4 linked regions of the Homo sapiens genome follow. The protein of the gene in region 1 purifies or fractionates together with the protein of each later gene. This does not show direct contact. Each region holds a gene or a part of one and is shown in the gene's direction. Other genes may lie near its edges.

Evidence for each region. Proteins that work in one complex are often made in the same cells at the same time.
Region 2: the proteins of NUDT19 (region 1) and AKR1C3 fractionate together in Homo sapiens (co-fractionation; one large-scale study listed by BioGRID). This does not show direct contact.
Region 3: the proteins of NUDT19 (region 1) and SQOR fractionate together in Homo sapiens (co-fractionation; one large-scale study listed by BioGRID). This does not show direct contact.
Region 4: the proteins of NUDT19 (region 1) and FXN fractionate together in Homo sapiens (co-fractionation; one large-scale study listed by BioGRID). This does not show direct contact.

What each region holds. Positions count from the first base shown.
Region 1 is NC_000019.10:32,693,627-32,699,184, forward strand, and holds part of NUDT19 (acyl-coenzyme A diphosphatase NUDT19 precursor), read left to right. Parts: exon of another isoform or gene 1-468; intron 469-5,558. UniProt on the Homo sapiens protein: Fatty acyl-coenzyme A (CoA) diphosphatase that hydrolyzes fatty acyl-CoA to yield acyl-4'-phosphopantetheine and adenosine 3',5'-bisphosphate.
Region 2 is NC_000010.11:5,092,591-5,097,249, forward strand, and holds the start of AKR1C3 (aldo-keto reductase family 1 member C3), read left to right. Parts: upstream 1-1,823; 5' UTR 1,824-1,854; coding exon 1,855-1,938; intron 1,939-3,819; coding exon 3,820-3,987; intron 3,988-4,659. UniProt on the Homo sapiens protein: Cytosolic aldo-keto reductase that catalyzes the NADH and NADPH-dependent reduction of ketosteroids to hydroxysteroids.
Region 3 is NC_000015.10:45,686,560-45,689,440, forward strand, and holds part of SQOR (sulfide:quinone oxidoreductase, mitochondrial), read left to right. Parts: intron 1-1,777; coding exon 1,778-1,845; intron 1,846-2,479; coding exon 2,480-2,658; intron 2,659-2,881. UniProt on the Homo sapiens protein: Catalyzes the oxidation of hydrogen sulfide with the help of a quinone, such as ubiquinone-10, giving rise to thiosulfate and ultimately to sulfane (molecular sulfur) atoms.
Region 4 is NC_000009.12:69,038,283-69,042,287, forward strand, and holds part of FXN (frataxin, mitochondrial isoform 1 preproprotein), read left to right. Parts: intron 1-4,005.

The sequences.
Region 1 (5,558 bases):
TACAGAGTGCGGATTGGTGCGTTTACAAATCTTTAGCTAGACAGAGCACTGATTGGTGCGTTTTTACATAGTACTGATTGGTGCATTTACAAACCTTTAGCTAGACACAGAGCACTGATTGGTGCGTTTTTACAGAGTGCTGATTGGTGCATTTACAAATCTTTAGCTAGACAGAAAAGTTCTCCAAGTCCCCACTGGACCCAGGAAGTCCAGGGGCTTCACCTCTCAATCCCGCCTCTAAACAGGGCACCCCATCTGCTGTTGGGAATTGGGCAATGACTGCTCTAGCTACTTCCTGCTGGACAGGGGCAAAGAAGGGGCCCTGCAGTTGTAGTGTCCTCCAGAGGGGAACTCTCTAGGCCAGTGAAAGGGCCAGTGGGTCGGTCCAGGGGTCCTCGGTAGAAGTTGTTAGTTGAGCTCATTTGGGTTTCCGTTTGTAAGACCATCTGTAGTTTGATGGCCTTGATTCTAGAGGAAACAAATTTGACAAGGAGGTTAAAAATACAGGGCCCGAAGGCGAGTAATAGTAAAACGGCTGTCACAGGATGTAGAAAGGGGAGAAGCCATGTTGCCCAACTCCAGAGGTTGGTATAAGAGTTTGAAAGGCGTTGTCTGATTTCAGAAACCTTTTCCTGTAAATGCCGGGCGGCATCTTGCACTATCCCTGACTTGTTAGTGTAAAAACAACACTCTTCCCCTAAGGTGCAAAGTCCTCCTTTCTCAGCAGTGAGGAGGTCTAGGCCTCGGGGGTTTTGGAGAGTCACTGCTGCCAGAGTCTATTTGGGATTGTAGTTACTATCCTTACTGAATAGATTTTGTTATTTCTTGCAAACTGTCTGAGAAATACTTTGAGAGTGTGTGGTAGTAAGATAATGAAGTAGATAAACTGGCTATTCCGGTTCCTGTAGCAGTGGCCATTTCTAGCCCTATAAGTAGGGGTATCAGTTGTATGGCCCTGTGCTGATGGACTTGAGCTTTGAGGGGCACTGATAGGGTCTGATGTCCATAAGATTAGAAGTTAGGATAATATGTGTTACACTGTTAACTTTTAGCAAACTTTACTTTTGTTGAAAACCTTAAGTTTGGGATTTCAATTATTCTTTGCTATTAATAAGACCTCGTTCAGTCCATATTCACTTAAAATTGGTATAGATGGCTCCTTCCTGATTCTGTAAGTACTTTAAGGTTTGGCTGAGTGCAAACAGCTTGCACATTTGAGCAGACCAATTATTAGGCAATTTTCCTAACTCTGCTTCTGTAAGAGTTTCCTTATCACGTACTGAGTACCCATTGTGTCTTTTTCCTTAATCGCCCAGGAGGAAACATCTATCATCCTGTCCTGAAGGGGGTTCCTCCTATGTCTGGTCAGACCTTCAGATTTAGATCCCCTGTTAGGAACCTGCTGGGTTAAGGATTTTTGATAGGAAGGCTACAGGTTGTCAGTGGCCTCAGTGCTTTTGGGCTATGCCCTTGTTTACACTGACAACAAGGTGGTATTGGAGTGTTACAGGGTTACAGAGAAGACCTTCAATTATCAATTGTAGGTTTTATTTTTCATTTTTATTTTTTTGGAGATGGAGTCTTGCCCTGTCACCCAGGCTGGAGTGCAGTGGCATGATCTAGGCTCACCGCAACCTCTGCTTCCCGGGTTCAAGCAATTCTCCTGCCTCAGCCTCTGGAGTAGCTGGAATTACAGGCGCCCGCCACCACACCTGGCTAATTTTTGTATTTTTAGTAGAGACGGGGTTTCACCATGTTGGCCAAGTTGGTCTCAAACTCCTGACCTCATGATCTGCCCGCCTTGGCCTCCCAAAGTGCTGGGATTACAGGCATGAATTATATATTTTAAATTTACCCTGGCTTTTAAAGGAATAGGGTGCACTGTTTTTTCTTTACTACTTCTATCTCTTTCTCTCTGACTCCTTTGTCTCTTCCTCTCTTTCCTTCTGTCTTTGACTTTGCCTCTTTCTCTCTGCTGGTCTTTCCCTGCCTCTGCCAGCCGCTTATGCTGCCGTTCTCCCTTCTCCTTCCCCTTTTTGATGGCTTCGGCAGTGTAAGACTGCCACCTCCTTGGGTTTTTGCATTGAGTGCAATAACTCCATGATTTCCTTGTGGTATTTAATGGGGGTTCCCCCAGAGGTTAGGAACGCTCTTTCTTTACATATTGCAGCATGGGCATGTAGGATTAGATAAGCATACTTGCTATCTGTATACACGTTTTTTCTTTTTTCCTTTCCCAGTTCTAAGGCTCGGGTAAGTGCCACTAGTTCTGCTAACTGGGTGCTGGTCCCTGGGGGAAGAGGTTTACTTTCAAGTACGGTTACATCACTAACTGTGGCATAACCTGCCCTTCGTATCCCATTTTCCACAAATGAACTTCCATCGGTATATAGGTTAAGGTCAGGATTAGCTAACGGGACTTCTAAGAGATCCTTTCAGGCGGCATAAGTCTGGACTACTACCTGTTGGCAGCCATGCTTGACCCGCTCCCTATCCTCTGGGAGAAAAGTGGCAGGGCTGAGGGCCACACATGTATGCACTTGAAGCACTGGTCACTCAAGGAGTAGTGCCTGGTATCTAAGCAGGTGGTTTTCTGATAGCCATAAACTTCCTTTGGCACCTAGTTTGCCATTTACATCATGAGTAGTCCAGACAGTGAGATCCTTTCCTTGTATTATTTTGATAGCCTCTGACACTAAGACAGCCACTGCCACAACTACCCCTAAACAGTTAGTCTAGCCTTTTGCTACTGTATCAGTTTCCTTAGGTATGCCACTGGTTGTGGAGTTGTCCCATGAGTCTGAGTAAGGACCCCAAGAGCTATTCCTGCTCTCTCTGTGACGTTTAAAGAAAAGTTTCGTCCTGTGGGAAGGCTTAAGGCTAGAGCTTGAGTTTGTTCCTTCCAATGCCCAGACTTCAGGGTTGATTCCCTCCCCAAGCAGGGGACAACAAATGGGTAACTTGTTCCCCATATTCATGTAGATAATAGCTCCAGCTTTGGCTAATATATCCCTCCCTAATAAGGGTGTGGGACTTTCAGGCATAACAAGAAAGGCATGTGAAAGGAGCAAAGTCTCCCAATTACAACTGAGGAGGTGGGAGAAATACCTGGTTACAGCCTGTCCCAGGATTCCTCGGATGGTAACAGACCTTGAGGACAGCTCCAAGACAGGAAATTAACACTGAGAAAGCCACGCCAGTGTCCAGGAGGAAGTCAATTTCCTGGCCCTCAATGGTTATACATACCCAGGACTCAGTGAGAGTGATGACATGAGCTGGTGCTTTCCCTGGGCACCCTCAGTCTTGTTGCATCATCTGGTTGGTGGCTTCTGTCCCAGAGAACCTTTGTCCTCTGGGGCAGTGTGTCTTCCAGTGATTGCCTCGGCATAGTGGACATGGGCGAGGGGGCAGCTTGTTTCTCATAGGACAATCTTTTTTTTAAAAAGTGTCCTTGTAAACCACACTGATAACAAGCCCTACCAGGTGATTGGCCTGCTCCATTCTCTGTCCCCTCTGAACCACCAAGGTTTGTTTGTCTGAGGGCCATGACTAAGTCTGCGGCCTTTCTATTATCTCACTTTTACTTTTGGGCCTGTCCATCTTGGTCCCTATTATAGAACACTGAGGTTGCCAGGTTTAATAATGCTTCCAGAGTTTGTTCAGGGCCCAGGGCTCGCTTTTGGAGCTTTCTCCTGATATCCACAGATGATTGGGTAATAAACTTGTCTTTTAGGATCAATTGACCCTCAAGTGAGTCGGGTGACAGGGGAGTGTATTTTCTTAAGGCCTCCCGTAGCTGCTCGTGGAAGGCAGAAGCATTTTCTTCCTTTCCCTGAGTTATGGTGGACATCATTGAATAATTCATGGGCTTTTTCCTAATACTCCTTAGTCCTTCTAGAACACAAGTCAGCAGATGTTTACGACTCCAGTCCCCATGATCTGAGTCGAGGTCCCAGTGGGGATCCATACTGACTTACTGACATACGGCTTGCTGACTAGTAAGGAATTTGTCCCTTTCTTCAACTGTCATTCTATCATTTACTGGACTAAGATACCAGGTATCTCCAAACTCTTGGGCTGCAGCTAAAGCCACATTCTTTTCATTAAAGGCCAGGGTTTGATCTAACACTAGCATGACATCTCTCCAAGTGAGATAGAAGGTTTGCCCTCGACCCTGTAGGACATCTGTATACCTATCAAGATCATCTGAAAGCTTCCCAAGGTCTGCCTTGATCTGCTTAAAATCAGAGAGGGAGAAGGGAACATGTACCTAGGTTGGGCCAAATTCCGCTCCCCCTACAGCTTGAAGGGGACATAACCGATAGCCCGGGAAGGGGGCGTTTGTGATCCTTTGGAGATTTCTTTGCTTATTTCCTTCTGGGCAGCGGACATTAGAGGAGGATTATCATTAATAGGAAGGGGAGCTATAGGGAGGCTAGGATATGGAGGTAAGCTGAGAGGTCCTCCTGTGGGATGTAAATTGCAAGCTTTGCATACTTGGGTATTCTCCTTCAATGAAAAGAAAACTTAGACATAAGGTATTTCACTCCATTTGCCTTCCCTCTTACAGAAAAGGTCAGGCTGCAGGATAGTACTGTAGTTTATACTTCCCTCAGGTGGCCATTTTTCCCCATCAGAGAGAGAAATTGGGGCCAGGCTGTAGTATAGAAAAAAATGAGCCACCTCTTTTTCAGGGTTTGTGGGTCAAATTGGTCCCAGTGGCTTAGGATGCATTTCAAGGGTGAGCCTGTTGATGCCTGAGTGTTTCCCATCTGAAAGACAAAACCGCCTGTGGTTTTGGTTTGTTTGTTTCTCCCCCTGCCCAAGAACCTGCAACGGTCCCTGGACCCTGCTGATCGGAATAGTTGTGCTCACCAATGCAGCAGCAGAAACACCTCTTGCCCAAGAACCTGCAACAGTCCCCGGACCCTGCTGATTGGAGTAGTTGTGCTCACCAACGCAGCAGCAGAAACAACCCCTGCCCAAGAACCCGCAACAGTCCCTGGACCCTGCTGATCAGAATGGTTGTGCTCACTGACACAGCAGCAGAAACACTAGTTCTCCTAGACCACAAGGAGGAATGAGGAAGGTCAGATTTCGTGGCCCTTACCAACACATTCTCGAAAACCTGCGCCCTTTCCTGTCCTCCTAGACCTCAAAGAGGACTGAGAAAAATCAGATTTAGTGGCCCTTACTGATGCATTCTTGGAAAACTGTTGGAGTCCTAAGCATTCTCCTGTTAGTATTGGGACCTTACCCATGTCCTATAAAGATGTTATGCCCCCAAAATGAAGTGGAGGGCCATACCCTGAGGGAGGGAAGGGATCTCCAGAGTTGGAAGAGTGAAGCCTTTTATCCCCAGTTATATGAATAGGAAGGATACAATTTCTGAGGCTCCCGATATCCTAGTTTCAGGAATAGCTTTTGTTAGGCCTGCTTTTCTGAGGAGGGATTCTAAAATTCCAGATAATCCCCCCTACGATGGGGCTTTGAGCAAAAACTGTGTCTTTCTGATTGGTGAGCCCGGGTGTCTAAAGAAGGTAACAGAGTCCTGAAGT
Region 2 (4,659 bases), on another chromosome or scaffold:
ATTTTCACTTCAGTTATATCGTTCAGCTCCAAAATTTGTTTGGTTTATTTTGTATAATTTCTACATCATTGTTGATACACTCATTTTTCCGTATATGCTTTTCCCAATTTCCTGTAGTTCTATTTCCATATTTTTAATTGGAAATTTTAGCATATTTAAGATAATTGTTTTAAAACCTTTCTCTACTAATTTCAGTGCTCATGGTTCTTCAAAAATAATTTCTGTCAACTCGTTTTCTTTCTTATAAGGGACTGTGTTTTCCTGTTTCTTTATATACCTTATTATTTTATTTGAGCATTTCAAAATATAGACATTTTTCTAACTCTATATAGATTTGTTCTGTGTCATGACGATTATCAACTAATATGCTTGGTATGTTCTTAGTCTTAGCATAAGCCCAACATAAAACCCTAAGGCCTTGTCAGCAATTTTCTGAACTTGTATCTGCCTGGACTGTGTGTGCCCATTAGTAGTTCCCCCAAATACCTACTGGCTTTTGAATAGCTTACTATTTCAAAAATTCACACCCCAGCTTCCCCTCAATGGGTTAGACGGACTATTGCACGTCTCTTCCCCTAATCTCTTGCCCTTGGCATCATACTACATTTCTACTCAGCACCCCCATAAATAAATAAGTTTATTTTAGTCAATTTCAGATCACTTCTTGACGCGTCCATGAGACAAGTAGGGGCCTTTTGATCCACCATATTGCTGAAATCACTCTGTAAAAGCTTTCAATGATTTTATATTATATTGTATCAATGTATAATAATTAACTTATTTCTCAACTTACTTTTTGGTTATTATTTGAGGAAAAGTAAATAGAACGAAATCAGGGCATTGCAAGTTCTGACAACTCCAAGATGTTGATAATGTATTGTGCAAACTACATTCATCATGTTCTAATCTGCCCTCCAAAGGAAGGAACAAGTGAAAACTATCCCACATGAGAATTATTCATCCATTTATATGTAATTAATTTCCAGTTTTTCCTTACAAATAATGTTTAACAAGATGACAGATTATATAAAATGGTTATCAGTTTTTTGGCTAGTTACTTCTTGATAGTCTGTAATAAACCTGGTTGAAGAACAAATACTATTAAGGCACTGCTTGCATATATTAAATGATGTCCAAACTCCAAAAACTGTTAATAATTAACACTCCAATAAAAACTACACCAGAATTTCTTTTTATTTGCACCCTCATCAGGATTACAGCTTTATCAGGACTGCATCTTCTTCAGAAATGAATATTTCTCTTACAACGCAAAGAAAGAAAAATCAAAATAAATTTTCTGATTGAAAATGTAAAAAGGCAAATATTTTTACAGTTTTAACTTTAATTTTTTATTGAGGACCAACTATTTGAAAAATTCTCATTAGTCATTCCTTTAAATTATGTGTATGTGAGAGAAAGACGTAAGATGGTTAATTATTTCAAATGATGCAGTATAAAGAAGGGGCATTATCACGGCAGAAACGAAAAAAGATATTTGTAGCTGGAGGTTTTTATAGTCTAACATATGGTTGCTATTTGTTCTACAAATCCTTTTGAATAATTTAATATAGAGATTTAGAATAGAAAATAATACTTTAGATAGAAATTAATGAGTTTATTATAACCATATATTATAATAATTTACTTAGGAATTCTCTTTGATAAGAAACAAATGAACTGAATGCAATTTTCTCCACAGACCATATAAGACTGCCTATGTACCTCCTCCTACATGCCATTGGTTAACCATCAGTCAGTTTGCAGGGGTGGGGGGAGGGGTTTCCTGCCCATTGTTTTTGTAATCTCTGAGGAGAAGCAGCAGCAAACATTTGCTAGTCAGACAAGTGACAGGGAATGGATTCCAAACACCAGTGTGTAAAGCTAAATGATGGCCACTTCATGCCTGTATTGGGATTTGGCACCTATGCACCTCCAGAGGTAAGAATAATTCCTTTTAGTTTTCGGATTTCAAAAGAATAAACCTAGTAGAAGTGAAACCCGTATTGGGTTGTAAGGTTCGTGTTCCTACCTTACTCTGGATGACTCACTGGTCTAGGTTTCCTAGGCTAGGAGAAAAAAGTAGGCAATCCTTGTTCTGCATTGAGGTCCATTCCTATGGTCACGTACTGCTTATTTTTCGTTTGTGCACTGTTTCTTTCTTCTGTTCATGTCTAGTTCCCAGCTTGGCAGAATATGTAAAACTCAGTATTGAAGAACACTGTTGGTCATCTCCCTCTGGTGGAGATTAATTGCAATAGGAGTGATTTCTCTGTTTCTACAACTGAAGAAATCTTTCCATCTTCCAAGAACATACGATCCAGAGAAATACTTATAGCAAAAATTACTGGATATGGTGTGCACAAAACTGTCGGCAGAGTATCACTGTTCTGATGGGCGGCAGTGAGTGCCACCCAGTATTACCGGACCTGGACTAGAGTTTCCACTGTACTATTTCACTTTTAAAAAGAACTTCCTGAAAGAAAAAAATACCACCTCATTTTAAGTAAAATCTAGAACCTAACAAAGGAAAGTCTAAATTCTTAGTCCTTTTTTGTATGCATCATATTTGTATCAAAGTGGTAGGAGTGGTCTTCTGACACAAAAATGAACAAAATGGAGACCTCATTTTCTAGATAGAACTTGTATTCCAAGACTGTCCTCAGGCTACTAAGTGTGTGAATAGGAACTAATTATTGAAATTTGAGTCTCTCACTTTATCGATAAGTTGTGATGATCTACAAGGATACATTTTCTAGACCAGTGACAAAAGTGGTTTAATTTTTAATATAAATTGGCATGGGCAGGAAATGAAAATAACGACACAACTGAAGCTCCAGCCTTGGTAAACCTTTGAGTGTTGGCACACTTAAAGACTGCTCTCAAAAAAGATTTAAAAAAAAAAAAAAAGACTGTTCTCAGGAGATGGCGGGGAGACCGTTATCTAGTTCCTTGTAATTTCAACGAAACAAGAAAGCTTCTTTAAATACATGTAAAAATGAAAACAGTTTATTTATATTTTTGTCATTAAAAAATACCTTTCAAATCTTTATCCAAATTTGGTCAATAAGTCAGTAATTTTAAATTTCACTGGAATTCTGTCTTTCCTGAAAGAGATAGCCTTATTTTTTATGGCAGAACTGTACCTTAGTAAATTCTTAACAGATTTCAGTGAATTTTTAATGTACAAATCGATATCCTCAGAGTATACATCTTTACCCCTAGTGTTCAGTTCTGTTGTGTAGCCAGAATGACTATGCAGAAAAGACTTAATAGACTACTATTCACAGATGCTTTATTTCCCAAGTGAACCCTAGTTGGGTCGATGTAACTAGCATCCAGTCAAAATCTCAAGAACTGAGACACCAAAGAACATCTCTTGTAGACAGCATTTCCCAAATACGATGTTGGAGGAAGTCTGAGTGAGCATTCTGTGTAATATCACTGGGAGAGAACTCATATGAGCTTGCACCGTTTCCCTTCTATACTCCATGTGATTTTTACCATGTATAATATCACTATATTAAAAATAATTAGGACTATTTCAGTCATGTTAACTTTTCCAACAAATCACTGAATCTGAGGGTGTTATTTGGTACCTCCATAACAGTGATCAACCAGAGATTGCCTGAGACTGAAGGTGTTTCTGGGATGCTCAACCTTTATTACTAACCAGGAAAGACTCAGGCAAACTGAGATGGACTTTTCACCCCACATACAGACAGGAGGAAAAGCTGATTCTTGTATAAAAGTCAATGCTTGTGCCTGAACTACCTCTCAGCCACAGTGATCACCAGATACTACCTTTGGTTGCTCCTCCAGGTTCCGAGAAGTAAAGCTTTGGAGGTCACAAAATTAGCAATAGAAGCTGGGTTCCGCCATATAGATTCTGCTCATTTATACAATAATGAGGAGCAGGTTGGACTGGCCATCCGAAGCAAGATTGCAGATGGCAGTGTGAAGAGAGAAGACATATTCTACACTTCAAAGGTACTGTGTCTATGATGAGCTTGTGTGCACATGTATTTATTGTGATTGTGTGGAGATGACAATTCTATGACTGGATGAGTAGTTGTGGGTGAATTTTGCTTCTGGGTTCAAATTTATTCACACATACTCACATACTAAAACTGAAATCAAAATCAAGGAATGATGATCACTTTTCATTTTGGCTGTGTTCCAATTTATGACCTGAAAGTCCCTTTACTTTTTTGAGCTTCAGCTGAGATCAGTGTGATTTGACATGTGCTATAGAATCACAGAGAACAATAATCATGTTATGGTTTTTCTTATCGCCTGGGTGATTTTCTAAGATTTCTTATTATTCTCTCAATTGCTATCTTTATCAGTGAGATAGAAAGCAATATAAGAAAGCTCTGGGAGTATTAAATAATAGACACTTAAATTGTCCTAAATTGTGTCCAGCATAGTGAGCATGTTCAAAACTTGTTTTACCCCCCTTTTATGTTGCTTTAGTTTCTAAGCAACATAAATAGCTATTCTTAAGCATTGGGTTGAATGGATAGAAGAATTAGACTGTTAAAATGAGTTGTAAACTCTACTGAAGATAATTCAGGTAACATCATAGTTATTACTTAATACTAATCTTTACATTTTAAGAATTTACTCCTATCATTCAGTAGATGTACAAACTATACATCC
Region 3 (2,881 bases), on another chromosome or scaffold:
TTATGGGGCAATGCAGTCCACTGCCTGTTTTTGTATGGTGGAAATTTTGTTTTTTCTCATTATATAATATCTTTGATTTGCCGTGGGCCCACAAGGCCTGCAATTTTTCTTACAGAAAAAGTTTGCTAACCCCTGATTTGGGAGATTGCAAAATAACCACTTTAATAAGCATTTTATAATACAAAGGTAACCCATCTTTCCTCAAACGTGAATCCCATGTTCTACCTCTAGAGACACAAACTGCTGTATCTTCATTTTATTTTATTTTTGAGACAGAGTCTCATTCCGTCATGCAGGCTGGAGGGCAGTGGTGCAATCTCAGCTCATTGCAACCTCTGCCTCCGGATTCAATCTATTCTTGTGCCTCAGCCTCCTGAGTAGCTGGAATTACAGGAGCGACACCACGCCTGGCTAATTTTTTGTATTTTTAGTAGAGACAGGTTTCACCATGTTGGCCAGGCTGGTCTCAAACTCCTGTGATCTGCTCACCTTGGTCCCCCAAAGTGCTGAGATTACAGGCGTAAGCCACCATGCTCGGCCACAAACTGCTGTCTCCTTAAAAGGGTAGTCTTTTTTTGTTTTTCTGAGGTGGCGTCTCACTTTATCCCCAAGGGTGGAGTGCAGTGGTGCCATCTCGGCTTGCTGCAACCTCCGCGATTCTCCTGCCTCAGCCTCCTGAGTAGCTGGGATTACAGGCGTGTACCATCATGCCTGACTAATTTTTGTATTTTTAGTAGAGATGGGGTTTCATCATATTGGCCAGGCTGGTCTTGAACTCCTGACCTCAAATGATCCACTTTCCTCGGCCTCCCAAAGTGTTGGGATTACAGGCATGAGCCACCATGCCCATCTGGGCAGTCTTAATTATTCAACATTGAACACAAACTGGGTTTAGATTATATGAAGAAACTATTACTAATATTTTGGGGGTGCGAAAATACTGCGGGTTTGTGTTAAGAAAATTCCCCATCAGAGATACAGACAGGAGATTTATGAGTGAACTGATGTGATATCTGCTCTAAAAATACAGCGGGAAAAAAATAGCATGTGTGATGAGATGCATGAAACAAAACGATGGAATTTGAACATTTTCCTAATAAAAAAGGCAGTCTCCCCATTCTTGCCAAAGAAAAACAGAAACAAATCCCGATGTATGTATGTATCTATCTGTATCTGTCTGTCGTTCTGTCTGTCTGTCTGTCTATCTAGGAAAGAGACAGAGAGATGGAAATACAGGTAGATCTATATATCTGTATCTCTATATCTATAGATCTATATCTATATCCACAGATCTATATCTATATCTGTATCTATATCCACCTGGTCCTGCCTCAGCCAGGACAGTCCGGTAGAGAGGAAGGCCTGCTTTGTCTTATTGGAAATGCCTGGGGCTACCAATCCAGACTGCCTGTGAACAGGGACACAGGGATAACCCACATGGTCAAGAACACTGACTAAGTGGACACACAGACTAAGTTGACAGCCTCAACCCCAAGAGGAGAGGCAGTGGATTTGGGGTAGGTCCCTCCTTACAGCCACACTGGAGGGAGTCGGCTCTTTAGTATCAAACCCATGGAAACACATGCGCAGGCCTTCCATGAATTAAAGAACCCCCTCCGGTAGTCAGAATTTCAATTAGTAAGAAGGTCATGTTCTAGTCACAGTCTTGAGGGATGGGAAATGGAATCTTCTTGTTTACATTAAAGTTATTTGCAAATTAGTTTTCATGGAAAACCTTGATGCTTACATTTTTCTGACTTTCCCATTTCTCTTATAGCTGCCCAGTCAGGAATACTTGATAGGACAATTTCTGTAATTATGAAGAATCAAACACCAACAAAGAAGGTTTGTATGCCTTGTAAGAATCACTGTCTCAATGATCATCTTCCATTCTGTGTAAAAGTAGTGTTTTCCCACAATTTTGCACTTTCTGTCTTTTCTTTTTTTCTGTTTTTCTTTTTTTTTTTTTTGAGATGCAGTTTGCTCTTGTTGCCCAGGCTGGAGTGCAATGGCACGATCTCAGCTCACCGCAACCTCCACCTCCTGGGTTCAAGCGATTCTCCTGCCTCAGCCTCCCGAATAGATGGAATTACAGGCATGTGCCACCACACCTGGCTAATTTTTTGTATTTTTAGTAGAGACAGGGTTTCTCCATGTTGGTCAGGCTGATCTCAAACTCCTGACCTCAGATGATCCACCCGCCTTGGCCTCCCAAACTGCTGGGATTACAGGTGTGAGCCACCGCGCCTGGCCCAGTTTTGCACTTTTTTAATTAGTGTCTCCAATATGGGCATTTCTGTTTTTGCCATTAGTACTATTTTTTTTGTAATATAATTTACATTTTTCACAGTACAAAAAGCTAGAATATACAGAAAAGAAAAAATATATAAGCACTCACAGCAAATAATAAATTCTATAGTGTTAATATAGTACCATGAAAAAAATCTACTTTCCAACTCAGTCTGATTTACAATTTTAGTATGATGGCTACACATCATGTCCACTGGTGACCGGCTACAACCGTGTGATTCTTGCTGAGTTTGACTACAAAGCAGAGCCGCTAGAAACCTTCCCCTTTGATCAAAGCAAAGAGCGCCTTTCCATGTATCTCATGAAAGCTGACCTGATGCCTTTCCTGTATTGGAATATGATGCTAAGGTAAGTGCACTGCCTGGTTCCTGGATGAGGAAAGGGATTTGTAGCACATCTCCACCCAAAGGGGATGCAGCCTCTTTTCTTCATTATTAGCAGTGACCAAGTGTTCTGTCTTCCATGCTCTAGGCCCTCTTTTGCTGCTGGATAAATAATAATAGTAAATCACTTTCACATACCAAGTACTCTATCATCTGCTACCTTACTTTTTTTTTTTTTTTTTTGAGAC
Region 4 (4,005 bases), on another chromosome or scaffold:
GACCCTAAGCTCCCCCTGGTCTCCAAAATTCATCAGAAACTGAGTTCACTTGAAGGCCTCTTCCCCACCCTTTTCTCCACCCCTTGCATCTACTTCTAAAGCAGCTGTTCAACAGAAACAGAATGGGAGCCACACACATAATTCTACATTTTCTAGTTAAAAAGAAAAAAAAATCATTTTCAACAATATATTTATTCAACCTAGTACATACAAAATATTATCATTCCAACATGTAATCAGTATTTTAAAAATCAGTAATGAGACCAGGCACGGTGGCTCACGACTGTAATCCCAGGACTTTGGGAGGCCGAGGCGAGTGGATCATCTGAGATCAGGAGTTCAAGACCAGCCTGGCCAACATGGTGAAACCCCATCTCTACTAAAAACTAGCTCAGCATGGTGGTGGGTGCCTGTAGTCCCAGCTACTCGGGAGGCTGAGGCATGAGAATCACTTGAGCCCAGGAGGCAGAGGTTGCAGTGAGCCAAGATTTTGGGGGATTCTGTGACATACAAAAAAAATCAGTAATAAGATATCTTGCATACTCTTTTCGTACTCATATACTTCCAGCATATCTCAATTCACAATTTCTAAGTAAATGCTCTATCTGTATTTACTTTTATAAAATTCACAATTAAAAATGAAGGTTCACATAGTCAAGTTGTTCCAAACACACTTAAATGTCTCCTAGGCTGGGTGTGGTTGCTCACACCTGTAATCCCAGCACTTTGGGAGGCTGAGATGGGCGGATCACCTGAGGTCAGGAGTTTGAGACCAGCCTGGCCAACATGGTGAAACCCCGTCTCTACTAAAAATACAAAAATTAGCTGGATGTGGTGGCACTCACCTGTAATCCCAGCTACTCAGGAGGCTGAGGCAGGATAATTGCTTGAACCCGGGAGGTGGTGGAGGTTGCAGTGAGCCGAGATCGCACCACTGCCTTCCAACCTGGGCGACAGAGCGAGACTCCGTCTCAAAAAAAAAAAAAAGGCTCCTAATAACTTTATTACTTTATTATCACCTCAAATAATTAAAATTAAATGAAGTTGAAAATCCAGGTCCTCAGTCCCATTAGCCACATTTCTAGTGCTCAGTAGCCACGGGGGCTGGTGACCACCACATGGGACAGCATATTTAGTACCTGATCATTGGTTCTCAGATCTGGCTACTCAGCAGAACCAAGAATCCACAGAAACGGCTTTTAAAAGCACAGCCCCACAGCCCCCAGCCCCAGCCTTACCTACCTGGAGGCTGGGAAGGACTCTGATTCCACGAGGCAGCCTATGTTTTTTGATGGAGGGATGTGACAGGGGCTGCATCTTTAACGTTTCCTCTTAAATACTGGAGACAGCTTCGAGGAGGAGATAACTGGATGTGTCTTAGTCCATTTGATGGAGGGATGTGACGGGGCTGCGTCTTTAACGTTTCCTCTTAAATACCGGAGACAGCTTCGAGAAGGAGATAACTGGATGTTTCTTAGTCCATTTTCTGTTGCTTGTGACAGAATACCTGAAACTGGGCAATTTATATGGTAAAAAATTTTCTTCTTACTGCTCTGGAGGCTGAGAAGTCCAAAGTCAAGTCCCTTCTTGCTGGTGGGGACTTTGCAGAGTATTGAGGCGGCACCGGGCGTCATATGGTAAGGGGCTGAGTGTGCTACCTCAGGTGTCTTTTTCTTTTCTTATAAAGCCTAACTAGTTTCACTCCCATGATAACCCATTAATCTATGAATGGATTAATCCATTATTGAGGGAAGAACCTTCATGACCCAGTCACCGCTTAAAGGCCCCACCTCTCAATACTGCCACATCGGGAATTAAGTTTCAACATGAGTTTCGGAGGTGACAAACATTCAAACCATAGCATGCTGTCTCTTAAATGACTCAATAAGCTCCTGTGGCATCCACTTCTGCATGCCTTGGGCAGCTTTTAGACATCTGTCCATTTTCCTAGAGGGACAAGACCACCACCTGTGATCCTATGACCTTTTGGCTTTAGGCCTAACAAGCAGGTTATACCCTCACTCACTTTCAAATCATTTTTATTGTCTTGCAGACAATTTACACAAGTTTACACATAGAAAAGGATATGTAAATATTTATACGCTGCCGGGCGCGGTGGCTCACGCCTGTAATCCCAGCACTTTGGGAGGCCGAGGCAGGTGGATCACGAGTTCAGGAGATGGAGACCATCCTGGCTAATACGATGAAACCCCATCTCTACTAAAAATACAAAAAATTAGCCGGGCGTGGTGACGGGTGCCTGTAGTCCCCACTACTCGGGACGCTGAGGCAGGAGAATGGCGTGAACCCGGGAGGCAGAGCTTGCAGTGATCCGAGATCGTGCCACTGCACTCCAGCCTGGGTGACAGAGCGAGACTGCATCTCAAAGAAAAAAATAAATAAATAAATAAATATTTATACTGCTTATAAACTAATAATAAATGCTATGGTCTGCATGTTTGTGTCACCCCACCATTCATATGTTAAAACCTAATCACCAAAGTGATATTAGGAGGTGGGGCCCTTGGGAGGTGATGAGGTATGAGGGTGGAGCCCATATGATTGGGATTAGTGCCCTTCTAAAATAGCCCAACGGAGCCCAGTGACAAGGCATCATCTATGAACCAGGAAACTGGCCCTCACCAGACACCAAAGCTGTTGGTGCATTGATCTTGGATTTCCCACCCTCCAGGACTCTAAGAAACACATTTCTATTGTTTATAAGCCACCCAGTGGCTGGTATTTTGTTATAACATCCCAGACTAAGACAAATAACAAATACTTGTATCCCTGACACCAGGTTAAGAGATAGAATTTGTTTGTTCCTCTGGAGGCCCTTGTCTTCACCCCATCACTGCCCTGTCCTCCCTGGAGGAATCTGCCAGCCCGAATTCTGTTCATCGTACCCTCCTTTTCTTAGAGTTTGACCTCCTCTGTATCTCCCCCAATCCATGTATTGCTTATATACAAGGTATTCTGCTGTATCTGTTCTGCTATGGCTTGCCCCTTTTGTTCAACACTGTTTTTGTGCGTCATCTGCATTGATGCATGCAGTTGTCCTTTATTTGTTCTCACTGCTGGATAGTATCTGGTTGGGTAAATATATCACACTGTAAATCACACTATCCAGGTTCCTTTAGGTGACATTTGGTTGATTGCAGTGTTCTGTTGTTACGATGGTGCTGCTGTGACTGTTCTTGTGCATGGACAGAAGTTCCTTTCAGGTGAATTTCTCAGAATGGAATTGCTGGGCAAAGGGGCAGCCAATAATCAACTCATTTGATGCCAAAAGTGGTGGTGCCAGTTCATCCTCCCCTGCGAGGTATGGGTCCTGATTCACTCTTCAAGTGCTGTGGTTTGACAGGGCCGGGGGTGACAAGGGGACACCTGGGAAGGAAAGCTGGGCTCCCTGCTGGCCATCCAGGCCAGTCCTTACCAGGGGGTAGGCAATGATTGGGTCAAGTGGTTCCTGACCACTGGGCCTGAGACTTCAGGCCCAGAAACTATCTAATATTTCCTCAAATGCATCCCATGAGCAGGCACTGTGTGAGTGAGCACACACATCTGAAGCCTCAAGCTAGGCAAGCCTACCATGACTTGTGGTCCAAGGGCTCACGGGTGACCTGGAGTTAGAGGGAGACATGGCTGCCAGGTGGCTTTAGAAAGAACACTCATCATGGCCAGGTGCGGTGGCTTACGCCTGTAATCCCAGCACTTTGGGAGGCCAAGGTGGGTGGATCATGAGGTCAGGAGTGAGACCAGCCTGACCAACATGCTGAAACCTGTCTCTCCTAAAAACACAAAAATTAGCTGGGCATGGAGGTGCACGCCTGTAATCCCAGCTACTCAGGAGGCTGAGGCAGGAGAATCACTTGAACCCGGGAGGCGGAGGTTGCAATAAGCCTAGATTGTGCCACTGCATTCCAGCCTGGGCAACAGAGCAAGACTCCGTCTCAGAAAAAAAAAAAAAAAGGAAGAACACTCATCCTATGACCTTGACCTCCA